Linked DNA regions of Homo sapiens: region 2 is reported to be linked to region 1. The links are microRNA targets in miRTarBase. Many come from high-throughput screens and were not tested one by one. Region 1 holds a microRNA gene; the other region holds the end of a gene's coding sequence.

Region 1 (4,379 bases):
ACGCCCCTCTCCCACTCTTGTAGCACACTGAGCTCCTTCCACCACTTAGGTGTCACTCTGACCCTGTCCTCTGCGTGTGTGTCACTAGGAGCCCCACCCATTCAGCTGCACTCTAAGTTCCTCCTCTAATCATGTGTCACACATGTAGTCTCTCCCCACACTCATAAGTCATACAGAATGCCTCTCCCCATCCATGTATCACATTGAGTTTCTCTTCAACATGTGTTACTCAGAGCCCTTCCCTGACTCATGTGTCACCTGGAGCCCCTGTCCCTGTCCATGTGTTACACCGAGTTCTTTCCTGCTCATATGTCACATGAAGCTCCTCCTCTACTCACAAGGCACACAGCACCCCCTGCCCGTTTGTCGAATGGACCCCTCACCTCATGCATGTATAACACTGAGCCGCTCTCCCACCCCGTGTCGTACTGAGCTCCTCCTCCACTGATGTATTGCATGGACTCCTTCTGACACGCGGAGCCCTCCCTGCACCCTTGTGTCTCACTGGGCATCTCTTCCCAACCTTGTGTCCCGTGAGATCTTCCCCCACCCACGTGTCACATCAAGTCCTCTTTCTTGTGTTACTCCAAGTCCCTGCCCCCATATGTCACAGAGAGACTCTTCCCACCCACGTGTCACACCAAGTCGCCTTTCTTGTGTTACTCCAAGTCCCTTCCCCCCATATGTCACACAGAGACTCTCTTCCCACACACGTCACACTGAGCCCCTTTTCTGTCTCACATTCCACCTCTCCTTCACTCATGTGTCATGAGGAGCCTTTTCCCTACTAATGTGTCACCTGAGCTTCTCTCACATGTCACTTGAAGTCCTCCCCTTCCCATGCATCACCCAGAGACCTTCCCCCCACTCATGCATTGCCCTGAGCCCCTCCCTTACTTATGTGACATGGAGCCCCTCTCCACACCCATGTGTCACACCAACCCTCTCTCCACTGATGTGTCACACCAACCCCCTCTCCACCCATGCGTCACATGGAGCTCTTCCCCCACCCGTGTGTCACACCAGCCCCCTCCTCCACCCATGTGTCACACTAACCCCCCCCACCCATGTGTCACACCAGCCCCCTCCTCCACCCATGGGTCACACCAACCCCCTCCTCCACCCATGTGTCCCATGGAGCTCTTCCCCCACCCGTGTGTCACACCAGCCCCCTCCTCCACCCATGTGTTACAGGGAGCCCCTCCTCCCTCCATGTGTCTGTCAATCTGAGCCCCTTTTCCATTCATGTGTCACTCTGAGCCTCTTTCCCACCTCCATACCCTCCTGCCACCCCTACTTCTTAATCTTTAACCCCTTTCCCTAAAGGTTTCCCTCCATGGGCTCTTTCAGAGAATGTTATATTATCAGGTCATTTACTCACAGATATTTTTGCACCACCTACCACGTGCCTGGCTGCGTGTCCCTGTGCATGTGTGTTGGTGGTGTGGATGGCTGGAGAGTGTAGGACGAGGCAGGCAGTATGGTGGTTGAGAAAGATGTCAAAGAACAAAGGAAGGTGTTTTGGGGTACAACTTTATTGAGATGTAATCCACATACACACAATCCGCCCATTAAAGCTCACAGCGAAGTGTGTTTTAGTTATTCACAGATATCTGCAACTATCACCATAATCAATTTAAGATCATTTTCATCACCCCCAAAAGAACTCCAGAGCCTTCAGCTGTCACCTTCACCCTCCATGCACACCCCCCAGCCCTCAGCAACCAAAAATCTACTTTCTGTCTCTGGGAAATTCTTGAAGTGCCCCTGGACTTCATGAGTCCTCACTGGGTCCCCAGAGGTGCCTGTTGCAACCCATTTCACAGATGTAGAAGGCAAGGCTGGAGAAGTACCAGGGAGTCAAAGCAGTGGGTGGGTGGGGTCGAGTCCCCGATGTCCACTCACAGACCTGGGCCAGAATCAGGCCTGTCTCCCCCTTCACCTCCCCATCCTCCGTCCCTTGGCCTGGCTGCACAGTCACCTGGGGGCTCTGTGGGGCTAAGGGAGGCCCAGGCCCTGGCCATAGGAGGCAGGTAGGGCAAGGCTGGGCAGGGTGGACAGGTACCCCAGCGCTGCAGGTGCCCAGCAGTGGGTGGCACTGCCTAGGCTGGCTGTCCCTTGCTGTCACTGCTCTAACCACTAGCAGCAGGCGTCCCCTCTGCCATCCGAGCGCTTGCACTGCGCTTCCGGGAGGAGGGTTGCGGCCCGTAGTCAGTAGTTGGGGGGTGGGAACGGCTTCATACAGGAGTTGATGCACAGTTATCCAGCTCCTATATGATGCCTTTCTTCATCCCCTTCAACCACGCGCAGCCCCCGGACCCTCCTCTGCACCCTTGGCTGCACGGGGACGCGTCCTCAAGTCCGCTGCTGTCCTGCCAGCCTCTTCCCGGCATGCTCCTTGGGCTCTTCTCTCTCTCTTCTGCAGCTCTCTGACTTCCTGGAGGGGAGGGCCTGGGGCTGGGCCATCTCTGAGGCCCCTCCTTGGCAGGGAACTATGCCCCTGGTGGGACACCCCCTGGGCTGACTCCACAGCCAAGGGCAGATAGGCCGGAGGGGGAGTTGGGTAGCCCTGGGGCTTCTCCCACTGAGGGGCTGGGGCTGTGCTCCCACACAGAGCCCTCCAAAGGGACCCGGCCCACAGGATGGATGGACAGACGTTGGAGAGATGGTGCCCCTTTGTGCCCAGGGTGGAGGGGGTGGGGCTTTGGCGGACCAGGGCTGGCCCTTTCTGTGCCCCAAGAGGAGGGTCTCCTCGAGGGGTCTCTGCCTCTACCCAGGACTCTTTCATGACCAGGAGGCTGAGGCCCCTCACAGGCGGCTTCTTACTCTCTCCTTAAACCTGTTCTGGAGACATTTCCCCTCTCCCCAAGGATTCCCAACTCTGGGTCCCCAGAAGCTGTCAGCTGGGCTCCCTTCTTCCCCTGTGCGTACCCTGCTCAGGCTGGGTACCTGAGGGTGCCCAATGGCAACATGAGCAGGGGGCACGGCCGTGGCCCCTGGTTCTTGGACCTCTGTCTTCTGCCTCTCTGACTAACTCAGGTCCTGTGCATGGCAGAGGTGACCCGCACCAAGCCCTGTGATATTGGCATCATTAACCCCATTAACAAGCCACGACAGCCAGCCCAGGCATGAGCATCGGGGCAGCAGGGCAGCCAGTGTGGGGAGAGAGGCCTTGCAGTAGCTGAGGCCATTAGAGAGGACAAGAGGGTGCAGGAGGGAGCATCCTCACCTCTGCCCTTCCCACTTACATCCCATCTCCCCTTCCTCACCCCTCCTTCCCCATGCACCCCTTCTTCCTGTAGGAGGGAGCACCCTCACCTCTGCCCTTCCCACTCACCTCCCATCTTCCCTTTCTCACCCCTCCTCCCCAATGCACCCCCTCCCTTCCTGCAGGAGGGAGCACCCTCTCCCCTGCCCTTCCTTCCCACCTCCCGTCTCCCCTTCCTCACCCCCGCTTCCCCCATGCACCCGCTCCCTTCCTGGTCTACCCCTCAGCTTCTGTGGTGTCAGGATGGGTATGCTTGTCTTTGTTGATCTCAGACAGGTGGACAGGGGTCTGGACGAGGCTTACTGTTTGGGTCTGAGGTCAGTGCTCATGGGCTTGGGGCATGACAAGGGTCTTGTCGTCCCCGCAGCAGGGCTCTGAGCGGGTGGGTGGAGCTTGGGAGTGGGGGTGATGGCTTCTATTTGTTGTCTTTCTCTTTTTCACTTTGGGAGCAACCGGGGTCACCAGGTGGGCAGGAGGGGACCTCACGTCTCTGCCCTGGGCAGATTGTTAAGAGCTGGTCAAGCTCCTGGCACGGGGGCCTGAGTCCAAGGCCCTAACTGGACCTGGGGCCGCCTGCAGGAGGGATGAGCGAGTCCGGACCCGAGCGGTGAGTAGCCCTCAGCTGCCTGGGTGGTGTGCTGTTGAGTGTTCCAGAAACTGGCCCTGTGTGCACCAGGGCTGGAGGCTGGCACGTTGGGCATCTCATGGGGGTGGGCTGGGTCGGGAAGGGAGGTTGATGGACAAGACTCAGCAGGAGTGGAGCTCAGGGCTCCCTCCATCCCCTGACATCAGTGACCTGGGGGTGGACAGAGAAGGTGGAAGATGGGTGCATTTAGTTGTGGCCCGCCAGGTCCCGTGGGCCTGTGTGCCAGTGTCCGCGCCAGGCTGTGCTGTCTGCTGTTCAGAGGAGTTTTCACCTTTTTTTGTGGTGGCCATGATGTCATAACCCAGCATGACATTTAACATTAACCTTCCTTTTTCTTTCCCCAGGAGAAAAAAAGGTTTGTATTATTTTTCTTTTGAATTTTTTATTTCCATAGGTTTTGGGGAACAGGTGGTGTTTGGTTACATGAGTAAGTTCCTTGGTGGTGATTTGTGAGATTCTCGTGCA
Region 2 (4,379 bases), not on the chromosome of region 1:
ATACCAACATTGCAAGATGCAAGTGTGGAAACTGGAGTTTAAATAAAATTACAGGCAAAACTACCCCATCCCAGTGCGGTTGCTGTACATATCTACAGTACAATTTTTGGAATGTATTGCCATTTAAGAACATAGAAACTTTCTACAGACAATTTCACATACAGAATACGTACACCTTTTAGAAAAAAAGGCAAATATTTATCTTACAGAGAGCATTGTATTTTACATTTGCCTGCACGTTTCTTTTTTCTGTTTCTTTTCTTTCTTTCTTTTTTTACATACTAGATTTATTAAAGTGACCATAAGTGCCGAAGCGGTTTTCTAATGGAAAGCAGACTGGATTCACAACACAGAAGCAGAATTGGTGGAACAGGCTTTCGGGAACTTTCTTCCCCTGGTCACACGGCAGATCGGTCCCCAAGGACAGGTGCTCAGCCAGGACTTTTGCTTTAAGAAGGATTTGTCTGGAGAAAGGACTAGAGAGAAATCCAGCTCAGATGTATTGCTCATTCCTCTTCAGAAGGACTGGGTGGGAATGGAGCAGGGGCTAGAGGAATCTGGAAGCTAATTCTTTTAGGCTTTTTCCAACAGAGGGAAGCAGAGGGACTTCTGGGTCTGGAAGTTGGAGCTTACGGAGGCGACAGTGCAGGCAGCTGGCTGCTGTCGGGCTCCTGGAGGGTTGCAGGGGTTGAGCCCAGAGTGAGAGCCACAGGTGCGGGCGGGAGCAGAGAGGAGTGGGGTTACTACCCAGGATGGCCCTGAGATTGCCAAGGGTGAAAGGCATCGTGGAGCGCAGGCCTGGGGGGCAAGGACTCACCAACCAAAGGCAAGGTTTGGCTCTGAAACCTCGACCAGTTGGTTCCTCCCCCACTGCCCACACCCAAGGACCAGGACTAGTCTGTACCGAGGAATGGCCACCCCGCGCATTTCAACAGAGCACGTAGCAGGCATCTGTGCCAAGTCAGCCACTGCCTCCTCTGCTGCTTCCCTCAACAGGCACAATAACATCACAGGCAAACAGGAAGCTTGGAAGTGACTGGGAGCAGGGCAGAAGGCCCAGAGGAGGGCGTGCATGGGGCGAGCGTCTTTCTCCAAATCATGAAGGTGTACCTGTGGGCTGGGGGCTCTGTGCGCAGAGGAGCGGGACTAGAGTCCGGAGGAGGGGGTTAGAGCTGTGCCCAGTGACATATACCCAGGCTGGTGGCATTGGTTCTGTCCCTCTGGGCACGGCATCAATGTGGAGGCAGCCCTTTGGTGAGATTCTATTTGTGCATTTACCCCCATCATTTAGAAATAGTCTCCAGTGACTCCTGGCCCCTGTGGCTTCTCTGCCTGAGCCTGACGGGCCCGGTGACTGCCGGGCCTCTGCCCTGCCGGCTGCACTGTTCATTGCTAGGCTGCCCAGGGAGGAAACCTTGGGTGGGTAGGCTGTTTGAGTACAGGGAGAAAAATGCCCAGGAGAGCTGGAAGGCAGGGTGGGGTGGAGTGGTGTGGGGCCCCCCACCAATGTCAGGGGCTAGTCCACCAGAGCCCCCGGTCTGCTGCTTTGTAGGTCTGGGGCAGGAAGAGCTTGCCCAGGCAGATTTCTAACCTGGGCTGAAGCAATGCCCTTTATGCAGCTCCCAGACCTCAGCCCTTGAAGTCTCCAATCCGTGGGCAGTCCCATGGGTTAGGGCTGAAAGGCAAGGATGAGAAAAGCCCTGGCCTCCTGGGACTTGGAGGAGTCACTTTCTGTCAGGCCACTGTCCAGCAATATGGACAGTGTGGTCCAGGCTGGGCTTGCTGCTTCTCTTGGGGAGGATGAGAGCCCTAGTCTCTGAGGGAAGCAGCCAGGAGCTGCTGGCTAACCCTGATTCCCCAGAACCCTGGAGCACAGTGGACTCCCAGGGAGCCCTGCCTTCTGTCTCATTTTTGTCTTAGCTCTGAGGCAAAGGAGAATGAGTGAACAAGGTGGTCTGGCTGCAGGCTGGACTGTGGCTGGTTTGTCTGTCTAGTAGGGACCAAGCAGGGAAAGGCCACGAATTGGAAGAGGCAAGTACAGCCCCGCACAGGGAACTCACAGAAGGGTCTTAACCCTCCCCACCTACTGTGTCCTGTACCCAAGCAGCTTCAATAGCTCAAGAGCCCTGGGGCAGGCACTTGATTCACACAGCCTGGCTGAGGACTGGGGATTAGCCAGAGAGGTCCCTGCTCTGTATAGGGTGGCATCAAACCCAGCCTTCACGGGCCTCAACCGTAGTCCCTGTGCTGCCCTCCCTTGTAGAAAGTAAAGAAAATCAGTTCTGAAACACTGGGAAAAAGCTCACCTCTCCCAGTTGGGGCGAACACGCTAGAGTTCAAGTTCCATAGTTCAATTTGGGATTTAAATTTCTGGTCCTATTATTTTTCTTACAAAGTAGAGTTTTGCCCCAGGAAATGCAGGGCAGCTTCTTGAAAGTAGAGATGTGGGTAAGGAAGAGGCACTGGCTCACACTGATTGCTTTGGAGAATTCCAACGAGTTAGGACAATTCAAAAATCCTCTAGGTCAAAAGAATCTGTGGTGGCTGGGTGAAGTATCAAACACCATCCTCTCTCTTTTTAAAAAAGAGGTGTAAGACAGCAAACAGGTCCAGGCCGTATCCACCAGCCACAGTTGTGGGTATTTCCTTGGGGTAGTGGAGACAGGGGCAGGGACGGGGGGAAACGGTCCTGTGGCAAAGTGGTCCTGAAACAGTTCCCCGCAAACCTCTGCTGTGGAGAACTGGAAAAACCCAGCCATGAGGGGAACAGGCTCCCTTGTACCCCAGGGACCAAGATGAAACAAAACCCAAAACCCAGTCTCAGGAACGGCCGCTAGGGCTCGGGCCCTGCCACTTCTGCCTTTGTGGGTGGTTTGGTGGTTTTAGAACAGAGGAGGCAACAGGAGAGTGAGGCCTCGGTCAGGGGCTTGGGAGCCAGGGACGGACAGTCAGGGCTCCTTCCCCAGCCCAGGGGGCCAGGGTGGGGTGCAGAAGGGAGGTGTCTGGAGTGGGGGTGCGTGGGTGGGGTGGCCTGCCCACCTGTGGAGTGCCAGGATGGGCCCATGACTCAGACTACCAGAGTATCCAGGAGCCCTTGGGGAGCCAGCCCTCCTCCTTCTACCTGCACCTATTATTTTGTGTTGAAATCCTAGGAAAAGTATCATTTTATTTTCTTGCAAAAAAAAAAAAAAAAAAAAAAAAGGAAAAGATTAGTTTTTCTGGGCCTGCCTGCTGGGGCCTGGGTGGGGGTCACCTGCCTGTGTTTGTGCCCCTCTGCCTGGGGACACTGGCCTTTCTGCTGGCAGAGAGGGGTGGCTACGAGCTGGGCAGGGGGGTGAAGTGGCAATAAACAGGAACCTTGATCGCATCTGTACACAGGAGTGCTTCCTTTTACATTTAATTCTATATTGTTTGAAGTTTCCTTTTCCTTTCTCCCTCAGTGTACCCCTTTCCCTCTGCCAGCCTCTGGGGTGGGTGGCTGCCAACCACAGCGGGGAGGGTCAGGAGGCTTCACCATCAGCCTTTCCCCAAAACCATAAACTATTCACAGCCTCAGACTCCTCGTGGGTTGTTGTTTTTTTTTTAAATGTATGTATGTGATTTGTTTTGTTTCTTTTTAAGCAACAAAAGGTGTAGAAAAAGGCACAGGTAACTGCATACATGGGAAGGTACAACAGATGGGGCCGTGAGAGCTCCTGGACGGAGGGACAGATGGGGCTGAGGAAGTGGGATGATTCGAGGAAAGTGGCTGGAAACGTCTGTTGCTGGACACTGGAAGCCAGATGCTGAAGCAGTTGGAGAGAGGCTAAGCGTTGGGGGGAACCCTGTCCTCAGGCTGATGTGGATGTGCCCTGGGCTCCCCACTTCCTGAGGGCTTGGGGGAGTCCTGCCTGGTCCTGGGTTCCCCGGAGAGGTTCCTCGTCCGGGCTGGGAAGCGGGCAGAGGCCTCTGCCAGGCAGCCCACAGAGCTGCTGCGGTCCAGCGGCGGGGTGGCAGAAGGCTCGGGGTTGGTCGGTGCACGCGGGGACTCCAAGCGGGGGCTCCAGGACTGCGCTGCCCGGCGTCCCTGGGGCGGCCGGGGCAAGGTGTCGGGTGGGGTGCAGGGGCTGTGCGTGGGTGTGGGCTCTGCAGGTGCCCCGGTCCCATGGGGTGTCCAGTCAGGAGGCCTGCCCGGGCCTCCGCCGGTCCTCTCCCTCTCCTTGGGGTAGTCCCCGCCCTCCAGCTCTGAGGAGAGTGTGAATTTGGAGACCTTAGCCACAGGCGACACGGAGGCTGACGAGCTCTCAGTGGGACTCCAGCGGCCTCGCTCCTGGGCCTCCCGGGCCCCTGTCAGGTCGCTGCCACCCCCGGAGAAGCCACTGACCCAGGCTGCGGTGGGC

The links. The annotated mature microRNA hsa-miR-665 reads ACCAGGAGGCUGAGGCCCCU and lies in region 1 at 2,790-2,809, shown strand. An mRNA with a match to its seed (bases 2 to 7 or 8) in the 3' UTR can be bound and repressed. Matches are read on the target gene's strand: a 7mer-m8 pairs with bases 2 to 8, a 7mer-A1 pairs with bases 2 to 7 and ends in A, and an 8mer does both.
Region 2: miRTarBase lists HIVEP3 as a target of hsa-miR-665. Seed matches in the 3' UTR shown: 8mer at 3,084-3,091, 7mer-m8 at 1,830-1,836 and 7mer-m8 at 1,455-1,461.

What each region holds. Positions count from the first base shown.
Region 1 is chr14:100,872,286-100,876,664 of GRCh38, forward strand. MIR665 (microRNA 665) reads left to right here and starts at 2,748; the gene lies at 2,748-2,819. MIR337 (microRNA 337) reads left to right here and starts at 2,208; the gene lies at 2,208-2,300. RefSeq lists an enhancer at 1,387-1,556.
Region 2 is chr1:41,506,646-41,511,024 of GRCh38, forward strand. It overlaps HIVEP3 (HIVEP zinc finger 3), which reads right to left. Exons shown (of 9, transcript NM_024503.5): 9 at 1-4,379. The coding sequence ends at 3,806. Among named protein-coding and RNA genes, the nearest start is that of EDN2, 24 kb to the left of the region's middle.